2 linked regions of the Homo sapiens genome follow. The protein of the gene in region 1 binds, or shares a complex with, the protein of each later gene. Each region holds a gene or a part of one and is shown on either strand. Other genes may lie near its edges. A codon is read from its position in the direction of its gene.

What was found.
Region 2: the proteins of NAA35 (region 1) and NAA38 are in contact, whole or in part, in a cryo-EM structure (PDB 7MX2), measured with the Homo sapiens proteins. Residues at the interface, in NP_001308810.1 of Homo sapiens: Val30, Asp31, Ile32, Thr33, Phe36, Ala39, Cys40, Leu43, Leu45, Glu47, Leu48, Leu49, His50, Asp51, Phe54, Glu58, Ala59, Ala62, Ile63, Glu64, Met65, Met66, Ala72, Gly73, Met74, Gln306, Arg307, Leu309, Pro310, Pro311; in NP_001307854.1 of Homo sapiens: Ala41 (codon at 975), Arg42 (codon at 972), Leu45 (codon at 963), Glu46 (codon at 960), Leu48 (codon at 954), Leu49 (codon at 951), Arg61 (codon at 915), Phe67 (codon at 897), Leu68 (codon at 894), Cys69 (codon at 891), Thr70 (codon at 888), Asp71 (codon at 885), Arg72 (codon at 882), Cys74 (codon at 876), Ile77 (codon at 867), Arg97 (codon at 636), Val98 (codon at 633), Leu99 (codon at 630), Gly100 (codon at 627), Leu101 (codon at 624), Ala102 (codon at 621), Met103 (codon at 618), Val104 (codon at 615), Pro105 (codon at 612), His108 (codon at 603), Ser111 (codon at 594), Ile112 (codon at 591), Glu113 (codon at 588), Val114 (codon at 585).

Annotation. Positions count from the first base shown.
Region 1 is NC_000009.12:85,937,167-85,944,212, reverse strand, and holds the start of NAA35 (N-alpha-acetyltransferase 35, NatC auxiliary subunit), read right to left. Parts: upstream 3,068-7,046; 5' UTR 2,940-3,067; exon of another isoform or gene 2,808-2,939; intron 2,610-2,807; exon of another isoform or gene 2,339-2,609; intron 2,059-2,338; 5' UTR 2,054-2,058; coding exon 1,930-2,053; intron 1-1,929. UniProt on the Homo sapiens protein: Auxillary component of the N-terminal acetyltransferase C (NatC) complex which catalyzes acetylation of N-terminal methionine residues. N-terminal acetylation protects proteins from ubiquitination and degradation by the N-end rule pathway.
Region 2 is NC_000017.11:7,856,185-7,862,646, forward strand, and holds NAA38 (N-alpha-acetyltransferase 38, NatC auxiliary subunit), read right to left. Parts: upstream 1,376-6,462; 5' UTR 1,280-1,375; coding exon 1,199-1,279; coding exon of another isoform or gene 1,015-1,198; coding exon 831-1,014; coding exon of another isoform or gene 801-830; intron 660-800; coding exon 547-659; 3' UTR 501-546; downstream 1-500. Other genes in the region: CYB5D1 (cytochrome b5 domain-containing protein 1), read left to right, coding at 1,951-2,110, 2,219-2,295, 2,422-2,640, 3,198-3,428.

The DNA of each region.
Region 1 (7,046 bases):
TTCAGATTAATTAAACTCCAAGGAAACTAAACTAGTAAGTGACAGAGTTAGGACTCCAGCTCATATCTGACTATAAAGCTTACTACATTACTTACTGAGAAGCTACTTGGTCCAAGCCACTGTACTGATCATCAAGGGGAACAAACTTTCAATCTTATGCTCAAATCCATTACTCCTACTGCCTATAAAACAAGCTCAAACCAAAAAAACAAAAACAAACAAAAAACATCAATGGCACTAAAGACGCTCTATAATTCCCAGCATTTAAAATTGTTTTGTGGCCAAGTAAAATTATTTACTGTTCCCCTAACATAAAAACCTCACCAAACTCTGACTCACATAGTTCATCTCAGTCTAGAATAACTCTATCACCTCCCTTTGCAAAAACTTGATCTCTCCTTAAGGCCCAACCCAAGCCATATAACCTTCAAAAACCTTCCCTATTTAGGTTAATAATGACAGCCCCCTAATAGAGATTACTTAAAATCAGTGCAAGATGACAGGTATAATCCACTTAATAGTCTAAGATCTCTGAGCACAAAAACTACACTGTAACTTGACATTTCTTTCTCTCTTCCTTAGATAGACATACATAGGCAGTCACCCAACTCCCAGTCTTACGTCCTTTCCACTGTCTCACTGAGGCTATAAAAAGTGATTTCAAAACAAAGGATGGCACATGATTTATCATTTTGCTTATACACAGCTGGCTCCCTTTCCACCTGCAGGTGCCCCAAGTCTTTACTCCTCCCCTTCAGAGCACTATCCAAACACACCCTACCTATCATCAAAAGACCTAAGCTGCTTGAGACAATACAAGCCATCAGGAGTGAATTCCTTCACCAGTCCTCCTCTGTCACTTAGAAATATACTTTTATCTTCATCCTAACTTCAGTCCTTCCTGTCTCAGTGTGTCCCTGTGCTTTTCCCCAATTTCTCTACTATCTCCTTGATCTCATCCTCTCTTTAACGTTCAAGCTCTCACTCTAGTTAATTTGTTCCTTTCTCTTATCTTCAGTCTCTCCCTAGACTCTTTCCCCTCAAGCAACAAGCATGTTCATTTCTCCAATCATTTACTCCTATTTATTGAATTTACTATGTGCCAGGAACTGTTCTGTATACTAGGGTTACAGAAATTATCTCTGCCCCCACGGAGCTTATATTCCAGTGAGTGAGACTGAAAATAAACAAGAAATAATTGACAATTATGGCTTCTGAAAAAGATAAGCTGTATGAAGAAAATAAAAAGTGATTCAACTGAGGTGGAATTGCAGAGGAGAGAATGAGTGGTTGTTTTGAGGTCCTCACCAGGGAGGTTAACACTTAAGAAGAATTGTGTGAAAGCGAGGGGCAAAGCAATTTAAAAGAAAGAAAACAAAAAATGCAAACACCTGGGAGAACCACCTTGGTGTGTATTACGAAGAGATAAAAAAGACCTGTGACTGGAATGTAATAAGCCTGGCGGGGACAGTGGCACATAAATGAAACCTGAGTGGCAGGCAGGGACCAGATTTTATAGACCCATAGGGAAGGAGGGTGGATTTTATTCTACCTGCAACAGGAAGCCACTGGACAATCTTAAACAAGGAATGATGTGATCTGATCATACTGAAACCTCAAACATACAAAAATACTATTATCTTTTAGATTAACAAAGTGTTTTCCACAGTTAGAAATTACTGCTCTCTCTAACCTGTTAAAGCAAGAAAAATTCAATTTTAAAATACTGCCTCAACATCTGTATTTAATGCTGTATCAAATATACATTTGCTTTAAAGTTAAAATTAGAGGATACAGAATAAGTGTGGCTAACAAACTCAACAAACCACATTTACCTGTTGATTTCATCTAATGAGGTAAGTTTAGAAAGCACAATCGTCATTCTACCCCTTCCAGATGCTGAACTTCTAATCCAAAAATCAGACTCACCTCGACAAGCTTCTTCAAAATCTTGGGTAATGTCCACCCAGTTTGTATTGCTTTTCTCCATTTTTTCTGGCATACTGAGCTCCCATCCTGAATCGTCATCATCTACAGAAGCTTTCATAACCATTATGCCTGTAAAATTAATACTGATGTAAGAGAGAGGATGTAGCTTTCAGGGCAAGAGTATTTGCAGAAATGGGTGTTTGTTTCAGCATAGGATGAAGTCTTAACTAAACTCTTTAAAGCAGAACTCTTCTGAGTCTAAGGACAGTACTGCAAAGAATAACCTTAATGCAATCAAATCGCACGTCAATTAACACTCCTGCTGCTTACTATTAGCCCACCACCTACCAGGGCCCATAAACATTTTGCCTTCCTACTGTTTAAGAAGAAAAATCACAAACCATCTCACCTCTGGCCCGAAAAGAACAACTCCAGAGCTTCCAACTTTCAATAATAGCCACAAAAGACCAAGGCACTATTCAGGGTCCCCTCTCGCAGCCCAGGACCCCATGCGGCAGCTACCGAAGTCAATCAAGGTAGCCCTTCATCTGGCCAGAGCTCGCTGGGACCTCTCCCGGGCCAGAGCCGGCCCGGACCCAGGCAGAACCTCGCCGGGAGCAATGAGGAGCCGGCAGGCACCGCAGGGTCCCGCCGGCCGGGCCTAGGGCCGAGGCACACCTGAGGCGGGCACACGCTTCCCTTCCGCCCTGCCCGGGTCAGCCCAGCCCAGCCCCGGTCCCACTGGGCGCATAAGCAAGGACAGAGCTGTCGCCGCGCGGGAGGGCGGGCACGTCCGGCGCCGGGTCGTCGCCTCGGCAACACCGGGCAAGAGTGGGGCCTCGGCCGACAGCGGGCACTGGGGAGCCCGCCGCTCCTACCTGACGCGCAGCGGGAGGGCCGGGGCCGCAGGGTGACCTGGGGTCCCCAGGATCTGCCACACGCGCGGGGGGCTGCGGCTCTCGGACACACGAGCGAGAGGGTTTCAATGGCTACGCAGGGGCGGTCCCTACCTACTTCTCCCGTGGTCACCCGCGCCGCCACGCACTGTCCGGACCACGGAAATAACGACGCCGCCTCGGCCGCCGCCGCCCCCTCCCCTCTCAGCCCAGCCCGACCGGCAGCGTGCACGCATGCGTATGCCCGGGACGCGCGACCCCGCCCCCTCTCCCTTACTCCCGGGGACTTCGCGCTCCCCGGCCACACCCCCTCCCTCGCCACCGCCTCCGTTCGGCCGATGGCGGCCGCCTTCTCTTCTCGCGAGATTAGAGACGATCGCGAGACCGGAAGTTATCTTTTTTCACCCTCTGTCGGAGTCCTGGGTAGTGGGCGGTTCCCGGAAAGAGGCGGAGCCCGGAGTCTCAGAGCCCGCCCCGTCTGCGCTGCCCTCTGGGAATTTCTTAGAAAGGTGACGCGAAGGCGGAAGGAAACCGTGGAGGTTTGCGTAGACCTTAGTGGTTGCGAGCACGAACGAGCAGCCAAGCTCCGAGAGCAACAGCGTGCTACTGCTGCCTGACAACGGATTTATGTTTCCTATACAGCGCCTGGGAGTTTCGTGAGGAAACATAGATTCAAAATATCTGCAAAGTCAAGCCAGACATTTAATTTCAGATTCTTATATGTTTTAGATTTTTTTAATTTATTAATAAAATGATCAGTTTTTAAATGGGGTTACATAAATAGACGGGCGCAGGTAAGAAGCACATCTTTATCACCACCTGTTCTTTAGGATGGCCCAAAATTAAAAGATGGAAAAGATAATACCAAATGTTGGCAAGGATGCAGAGCAACTGGACCTCTGTTATGTTGGTGGTGGTAATGCAAAATGGTACAACCACTTTGGAAAACTTAACAATCTCTCCTTATAATCATATACTTATCATTCGATCCAGTAATCTACGAATTTACTTAGGAACAAAAACATATTCATACAAAGGCTTGTACGTTAATGTTCATACCAGCTTTGTTTTGCTTTGTTTTTGTTTTTGTTTGAGACAGAGTGTCACTCTTGTCGCCCCTGCTAGAGTGCAGTGACCTGATCTCGGCTCATTGCAACCTCTGCCTTTCAGGTTCAAGCAATTCTCGTGCCTCAGTCTCCCGAGTAGCTGGGATTACAGGCGCCTGCCCCCACACCAGGCTGTTTTTTGTATTTTTAGTAGAGATGGGGTTTCACCATGTTGGTCAGGCTGATCTCAAACTCCTGACCTCGTGATCTGCCCACCTCAGCCTCCCAGAGTGCTGGGATTACAGGTATGAGCCACCGTGCCTGGCCCAGCTTTGTTTTTAATCATCAAAAACTACAGACAACCCAAATGTCCATCAACTGTTGAATAAAAACAATTTGTGGCATATCCATACAATGTAATGAATGTAATTATCAATAAACAGGGATAAACTACTTGACATACAACATGAATGAATTTCAAAAATATATTGAGTAAAAGAAATCAGGCTGAGCTTGGTAGCTGGTAGCTCATGCGTGTAATCCCAACACTTTGGGAGGCTGGCAGTGGAGAGGTCGGGTTGGAGACTAGCCTGACCAATATGGTGAAATCCTGTCTCTACTAAAAATACAAAAAAATTAGCCAGGCATGGTGGCGTGCGCCTGTAATCCCAGCCACTTGGGAGGCTGAGACAGGGGAATCCCTTGAACTCAGGAGGCAGAGGTTGCTGTGACCCGAGATGGTGCCATTGCACTCCAACCTGGGCGACAGAGTAAGAAATCAAATGCAAGAGTATGATTCCCCAAGTGAGACCCCAGGCTCTTAAAAGACATCTATAGTGACAGAAGACAGATTAGTGGCTGCTCAGGGCTCAAGAAGAGACTAAGTTGGATAGAGCTTGATTTGAAGTGATGTAAATATTCTGTTTTCGATTAAGGTAGTGCCTGTGTGGGTGAATACATTTGTAAAATTTCACTGAAGTATATACTTACAATGTGTACATTTTATTGTTTGTAAACCGAACTTCACAAAAATTGGTTTAAAAAATTTTTAAATGGCCGGGCGTGGTGGCTCACGCCTGTAATCCCAGTCCTCTGGGAGGCTGAGACGGGTGGATCACATGAGGTCAGGAGTTCAAGACCAGCCTGGTCAACTTGGCGAAACCCCATCTCTACTAAAAATACAAAAATTAGCCGGGCGTGATGGCGTGCACCTGTACTCCCAGCTACTCAGGAGACTGAGGCAAGAGAATCGCTTGAACCTGGGAGGTGTAGGTTGCAGTGAGCCGAGATCATGCCACTGCACTCCAGCCTGGGCAACAGAGCAAGACTGTCTCAAAAAACTTTAAAAATTAAGAATGCATATCTCTCTTACAGAATAATTTCCCAAAGGCAGAAGTTTTGCCTGTTTTGATCAAAGCTGTGTCGCCAGGACTTAGGGAAGTGGTTGGCCTATAGTAGGTACTCACTAAATACATTTGAGGATGAGAATGTAGAAAAGAGTTACAATAAAGTAGAAACATATATGCTAGTTTTCCAAAACTGTTTAATGATCTCTGCAGGACCATGAGATATCTAGAAAAGGATGAGCTGACTGCATCTGAGTTGTTCAGGATCATGTATAGGTTGTGACAAAAACTGATAGAGGAAAAAACACTCTTTTTTTGTAAATAAGACTGCTTCAGAACTTATATATATTTCAAATATACATATATATCTCAAACACAAATATACACATATATATTTTAAATACACAAATATACACACATATATATTTCAAATACACATTTATAACCAGAACACGGCAGCCAAGTGAAACCATTTTATTTACTAAAACTATAATTTATTTGAAATCCATATTTGATTTCTCCTAACCTCTCTGATTTAAAAACCATTTTCCCTGAGAAACCTTTAACTTCTGATGACATCCAATATTCGTTCTAATGTTGAAAAAGCAACGGGCATTTTAGACATAGACTATGTGATGAATGGATGCAAAGGAACTGATTGACAAATAATGATCTACCCAAACAACATAAGAGTAGATGGCCATTTTTGGAGAGATGGAAATTAATTCCTACAAGTCTAAATCTTGTTGTTGCTAGTAGATAAAATCCTAACTATTACGTGATTCAACACTTGTGTTGAGATGAACTTTAGCTCAATGGCATCATATTGTACTGACACTGGAACCCAGTGTCACATGAGTTTGATAAGAGCAGAGCTGCAAGTCAAAGTGGATTTTACATCAGTTTTACCATTACATAAAATAAATTAAGGAGGACCTACAGGCTGCTCAGAGAAATATTTTCAGAAAAGGAAGCAGAAAGAGTTAACATATCCTACTGTATCATGTGGCAGAAAGAAACATGGCACTGTTTTTGTGAGTTTTTAAATTAAATATGGATAATATCAAAATATCAGTTTAGTTCGTCCTACTATATTTATTTATGTATTTTTGAGACAGGGTCTCCCTCTCTCACCCAGGCTGGAGTGCAGTGGCACAATCTCAGCTCACTGCATCCTCGACCCCGGGCTCAAGTGATCCTCCCACCTCAGCCTTCAAACTACTTAGGACTACAGGTGCATGCCACCACACCTGGCTAATTTTTTGTATTTTTGGTAGACATGGGGTTTTGCCATGTTGCCCAGGCTAGTCTCAAACTCCTGAGCTCCGGCGATCCACCCACCTCAGCAGGTGAATGGCGTGGACCTGGAGGGCGGAGCTTGCAGTGAGCCAAGATCACGCCACTGCACTCCAGCGTGAGTGACAAGAGTGAGACTCCGTCTCAAAAAAAAAGAAAAGAAAAGAAACTCCTCTCATCTCTCTAACAGTTTGAGTGACTTATCGGTAAAGGTGTCTGTGCAACTCCCCTTATCTTACGCAGCTGTGGGTATGTCTCTAGACAAGCACAAAGAGCTGCTTCTCTTGTTTGTATAACTGTGGGTTTGTTTTAGGTAAGATCCCCTCCTTCCTGTGCAGGCTCCCAACGTGTATATGCCTGAAAAGAGGAGGAAACTTTTTCCTGGGAGCTTGCTATTAATACAAAGAACAAAGGGCCTCTGTGCTGGACCCTGTCTGCTTCTCTGTCTGCAGGTGCAGCCTGAGATTTTTTTCCTAGGTTATTTTATTTTTGCCTGTTGCTGTGACTTTTCAGGCAGGCCACTTCTGCAGTCT
Region 2 (6,462 bases), on another chromosome or scaffold:
TGAGCAGAGAGGAGCATCCTTGAGCCCCCTGGCCTTATCGCTTTTGTCCGTTCTTCCTGGCCAGACCTCAGAGATCTGTTCCTGACCCCAGGCACCTCCCCCTCAATAGAGTGGAGGGGCCCAGCCTCGGCCGCCTGCCGCTGCTCCCCTTGGGGACCTGAGCCCGTTCTCTGACCCCAGCTTAGAGGAACTCGGTGTTGCCAGGCCGGGGTGGGAAACAATGGGCCTTCCGGAGCAGGATGACACCCCCTCCCGCCACAATTCTGGAGCAGCAGCCGTGGGAGGGAAGATGCAGGGGCCCACCCTGGGGCCTGTTGGTCCGTCATTCAGCCCTGCCCCCCATCTCTACCCCTGAACTTGAGAGAACCTTTGGCACCCCTGGACATCTTGGTTGGGAGAGGAGGGTTGAGGGTGCTCCCGACTTCAGATGAGCCCTTTCCTCTAGGGATGGGGTGTGCTATCCTGCACCGGCATCCCAGCTACACACAGACACAGGCCCATTCGGTCATAAGTTTAATGAAGTCTGAAAGGTAAGCGCCATCGTGGTCAGAGATACGGAGGCCCGGTCAGACTCTCCCTCTGCACCTCAATGGAAACGATGTGGTGTCCGGGTACCATGGCCAGGCCCAGCACACGGGGCTCCCCGGCAGAGAAGGAATCTGGAAAGAAGGATCAGAGCATCAGGAAAGTAGGCCAGAATCAGTCCCGCCCCTCTGAGCCACGAAAACGAGCCCCAGAAAACAAGGGTTGCAGCCAGGCCCTTAAGGGGAAATGCCTTGCGTAAGGTTCCGCCACATTACCAGGCGGGTGTGCATTCCCCGGGCACTGACCCGACGGCTTGAGGAACTCCTGCGCCGAGCCCAGGATGACATTGCAGTCACGGTCAGTGCAGAGGAAGCAGCCGACCAGTGTCCGTCCATCTGTCATGCGAATGCGCATAGTCTTGTTGAGCAGCGCCTCTAGCTGCTGTCGGGCGCGCTCAGCCGCCGAGTCCTCGCGCTCTCCGTCCGAATCCTGCGCGGGGTGTAACAAGCGCTCAGACCGCGCAGCCCAGGCTGCCCGCCCGCGGAACCACAGCTCCCGGCAGCCCGCGGGGCACTCACACAAAGCCCAGAGGCTGCCGGGAGCTGCAGTTCCCCACCCCCTCCATCTTGCTGCTTGACTGCCCCTCAGTCCCAGAACCAGAGCCCGTGCTAACCCCAGCACTGGAGCTGCTCTGACGCCGACTGCAACAGCCATTCTCTTCTCGTAGCAGCATGGTCGGTCCAGCTCCGGCCATTTGCCCGGAGGCCTCCTCTGGGCCTTTCAACTTCCTAAGCACCTTTCAGGTTGGGTGGTCCGAGATCTCGCGAGCGCTCCCGACCTCTTTCCTTTCGCGAGATCCCCTCTCCTCCCCCTCCTAGTCTCCTCGGCAACGGCACAGATCTCGCGAGCTTCTCCTACTTCTCTAGCGCTGTGGCTCACTGAAGCGTACTACGCCGGATGTCTTAAGATATCGCGAGACCTTTACCTCTGGTTTCTTACACATCCTTTAGAAACTGGAATTTAGCGAGAATACATTCTTTCATACTGCCTCCTCCCTTGTTTTTCTGTCTCAGAGAGATAGTCTGTCCTAAATATCCCATGTAGCCCAGGCCACTGAATTAAAACGGAGCGTATTCGTTCTCTGCCCCACCCCGCAACTCCTGAAAGCGGCGCAACTCAATTACTTGATCCTTATATGCCCCACGCGGGACTCATACTACGTTTCCCGTGAACACGTGCAGTCCAAACCCCGCCCCTGATATTTATCTCAGTGGACGGTGGCCGGAAAAGGACAATGGTTTCCATGTCAGCGGATAAACGCTCTCCCCTCGGCTCCCGGACGCGACGGAGGTCGTAGTAGTAGTGAGTACGTGCTGAGGAGCAAAGGAGTAACCAAGAGATCCAGTGACCGACAGAGCAAGAGCCATGCCGCGCCGGGGCCTGGTGGCTGGGCCAGACTTGGAGTATTTTCAGCGTCGCTATTTCACGCCGGCGGAGGTGGCCCAACATAACAGGCCCGAAGACCTCTGGGTATCTTACCTGGGACGCGTGTACGACCTAACGTCATTGGCACAGGAATACAAGGGTAAGGGCCACACGTTGGGCCGGGGCCGGAGTGTGTGTGTGTGCACGCGCGCGTTTGCCTGGTTCTCGAAGGGCTGGCATTGACAGTGGCTGTGCTGCTCTTTTCAAGGGAACCTGCTGCTGAAACCCATCGTGGAAGTTGCAGGCCAGGATATCAGCCACTGGTTTGATCCAAAGACCAGAGACGTGAGTTATGCTGGAACCTGGGATTGTGGGTAGAGGAAATGGAGAGCGGGGATGGGAAGGAAAGGCGGAGGCTAGCCAGAGCCTAATGGCTGCTCTGACACCCTCGCCCCAAACCCTCCTTTAAAGATCCGCAAGCACATAGATCCGCTGACCGGCTGCCTGAGGTACTGCACCCCGCGGGGCCGCTTTGTGCACGTTCCGCCTCAGCTGCCCTGTTCGGACTGGGCCAACGATTTTGGGAAGCCCTGGTGGCAGGGGTCGTATTATGAGGTGGGGCGGCTGTCTGCCAAGACCCGGAGCATCCGCATCATTAACACGCTCACGTCGCAGGAGCACACACTGGAGGTGAGAACTGGTGACAAGGAGCAGGTTAGAAGGAATGGGGAATCCCAGCAAATCTCCAGGCCGATCTTCAGGGCAACATTTTTTCCATAACCGGTGGGAGTGTATTTTCTGTCCTTTACATTGAGGCAACTGAGGAAAGCACAGCACCTAGGTCCCCAGGGTTGGGAATTCTAGGAGTGTCTGGGTCACAGGGGGACAAGAGACTCCTTTATAAGCCTGGGAACAGCAGTTCATGTATCTTAGTGATGGTGGTCCTTCGAAGCTCTTACACGCCGTTTTGGACAGCAATTGGACTTTCTTTTTAATCTACTCTGTTGCATGGATATAGTGAGGGGACAGTTGACCCTTTATGGCCATCCGGTAGTTAGAAGTGGCTGCCATTAAGATCTGTAGGACTTTAGGGTCTGCTCATTGCATGCTGGAGTTTCAGCTTTTTTTTCCCGGGGCCGTAGAGTACCTGAAGCTGCTATCTGCCAAGGGAGGCACTTTGATCCCAGCGTGTGTATATGTATACTCCATCCAGAATTCTGGGGGTGGGGTGCTTCTGTGTTCTCCAGGTGGGGGTTCTGGAGTCCATATGGGAAATCCTACACCGCTATCTCCCCTATAACTCACATGCTGCCAGCTACACGTGGAAATATGAAGGGAAGAACCTGAACATGGATTTTACCCTGGAAGAGAATGGGATCCGGGATGAGGAGGAAGAATTTGACTATCTCAGTATGGACGGTACACTTCACACACCTGCAATACTTCTGTACTTCAATGATGATCTCACGGAGTTGTAGGCAAGGAGATGTACACTCGTGTAGACTCAAGACGTATTTCGAGTTTGGCTTTTTCTGTGCCTTGAGGAAAAGTGGTGGGGCCGAGGGGTGCCTGGACCCAGATCTCCACTCCTCTCCAGGAGCTAGCCTGTGCCCTTCTGAAGTGTAAAGGCCCTATTCCCTGCCTTCATTACAGTTTGCTCTGAGAAAATTAGTGAATTAATCTTTGGGAATGATACAAGAAGATCAAGTACCTTGGTTTAGGGAGATGTAGAAGAGGATAGTCAGAGTTCAGGCAGAACTGTTTGATAGTTAAGAGAGAGTAGTTCTACAGGGGTGAGGGATGGAAGGACTTTTTTGGCAATGATGGAAATGAGATGTCTGCAGGAAGATGGGATTTACAAAGAAATAGGAAATGTTTATCATTGACCATACAAAGCTGGCTTATCTTACTTGTAGAAGAGTGTTTGGCAGCTGAAACCCAAGGGAAAGAAAGGAAGTGCGTCATTATAGGCAATTCAGGCTAGATATTATACTAGGTACTTCATATACCCTCTTTTTTTTTTTTGCCCCCAACAAAGAGAAGGGGTCTTGCTCTGTCACCCAGTCTGGAGTGCAGTGGCAAAATCATGGCTCACTGCAGCCTGGAGCTCCTGGGCACAAGTGATCCTCCCATCTCTGCCTTGAGTAGCTGGGACTTCAGGTGCACGCCACAATGCCTAATTTTTTAATTTTTTGTAGACACAGGGTCTCGCTGTGTTGCCCAGGCTGGTTTCAACCTCCTGGCCTCAAGTGATCCTCTTGCCTCAGCCTCCCAAATAGCCTCTTCAAGACAACTACCCCATAAGGTGGATTACCATTACTATGTTACAGATAAGTCCTTCGAAACTTTGGAAAGTTTAATAGCTCAAAGCCACACTAGGTAGTAACCACTAGAGCCAGAATGCAAATTCAAGTCTGCCCAACTCCAAAGTCCATGTTCTCTCAATATAAAGGGACCATCTCAATGTCTAATCTCATGTTAACATTTGTAGCCACTGCTCTCAGCAAGTATTTGGGATGTGGCTTTGTCCTAGGATCCCTGCACAATAGGAAATTGTGGTCCTATTGTATAGTTTGCAGTTATTGTCTCTGGAAGGGAGTTTGCAGAGTTCTCCTGTGGCGAAGAGGAGGCAAGGAAGGCTAAGTGTCAGTTAAGCAATAGCTATTGGGGCTACTTCTTTGTTAATCCCATACCCCAGATTTCTCTCCTGACCTTTTGGGGCAAAGAGGTGGGTATTTACTAACTTGAAGGAAAACTAGAGTGGGGAAAAGGCCGGCAAATTAGTGACACTTTGGCGAGGGAGAAAAAGGAGGCAGTTTGCCACTTGGAGAAGATGAGGAAGACAGGGTTGCAAGACGGTGACTCCAAAAGAGGGAGCTCGACAGGGGTAATGTAAACAGAGATGCTAACTAAGTCAGAAAACTCTCCTGGTGACCAAAAGAGAACCACTATTGGGGGTAATGGCTAGATTTGGTCTCCTTTAACTTAAGGAGGGGAGATTTGAGAATGACAGACAGTTGAACTTCCTGGCAGCAGCAAGCAAAAAACAAATCAGGAAGAGTTTAGTGTGTCTTCTGGCAGGGGACACCAGGGCCCAGCACAGGAGAAGGTGGCCCCTGTGAGATACTGGTGGGCTATATAGGCATTTTCTGAGGGGCTTTGGGAGGCATGAACAAAGGTGGAAACATTGCTGTTGGCTTCGGCAGTATCTGAATTTACTGTGAGATGGAGGGTTTAAATCTAACCCCATGGAATGCAGGAGTCCATGAATTATCTAAATCGATCATTTTGATCTTTAATCAACTCTGCAATTATGTGTACCTTGTTTGCTCAATTAAACCCTGAACTATTTGAGAATGAAAGCTATGCTGTTCCTCTAGTGCAAGCCTCAGGGCCTGTCCTGTGCCTACAGGATGTCCCCATTCTGCCAAAACCTGTCCCTCTTCCAGAGACTCCTACTTCAATGTCTCTTGCTAGAAACACATCCCTTTCCTCACACATCCAGTCACTCATCAAGTGTAATCTGTCTCCTAAATATCTCTGGAACCTATCTTCTTTTCTCCAAGTTACCATCACCTCTTGTCTAAACTGCTACGGAAACTTCCTAACCTGTTCTCCCATTTCCACTTCTGACTTCCATGCTGCAATGAGAGTCAGCTATGAAAAACAAACCTAAACATCGAACTTTCCTTAGCTTCTTCAGTGGCTTCCAACTGCTTTTGGAATAAAGTCCTAAATTCAAAGATCTTGTATAAATCAGGCTCATCTCGCAACACCCCTCTTTGTTCTCTATGGCCTAGACACACTGGCTTTCAGTTCATTACATGTCTTGCCTCAGACCCTCACACACTGTCCTCTCTGCCTGCAACACTCTTCCTTTCACTTTCCACCTAGCTGATCCTAAATGTTCCTTCCTCAGGGAGGTCTTTTCTGATTTCTTGGTGGGTCAAGACTTTCTGATAAATCAGTTAGCACCATGCATTTTCCAGAGTTTTTATTACAATTGTAAAATTATGGCTGTAATAGGCTGGCTGCGCTGCTAGATTGTAAGCTCACGAGGGCAGAGATCTTGTTCACATCTTGCTCACTGCTATATTCTCATTGCTGAGCACACAGTTGCAGCTCAATAAATTTTGAATGAACTCCAATGTTAAGTGAACTCATCCGTCTATACCTAGTGGGGGGGATGTTGTGTCCTAGTAGGCAAGGAAGGACCAAGAAATAGGATGTCTGGTTCCTGTGCTATAGTCTCTATCCATAGGATTCACTTTCCTTGCTTCCCCAATATCCAAAACCAAAAGTTATTCCATAGAGGGTCTCTGGCCAGGTGCAGTGACTCACGCCTGTAATCCCAGAACTTTGGGAGGCCGAGGCATGGGGATCACCTGAGGTCAGGAGTTCAAGACCAGCCTGGCCAACCTGGCAAAAGCCTGTTTCTACTAAAAATCCAAAAAATTAGCCGGGCGTGGTGGCACACACCTATAATCCCAGCTACTTGGGAGGCTGAGGCAG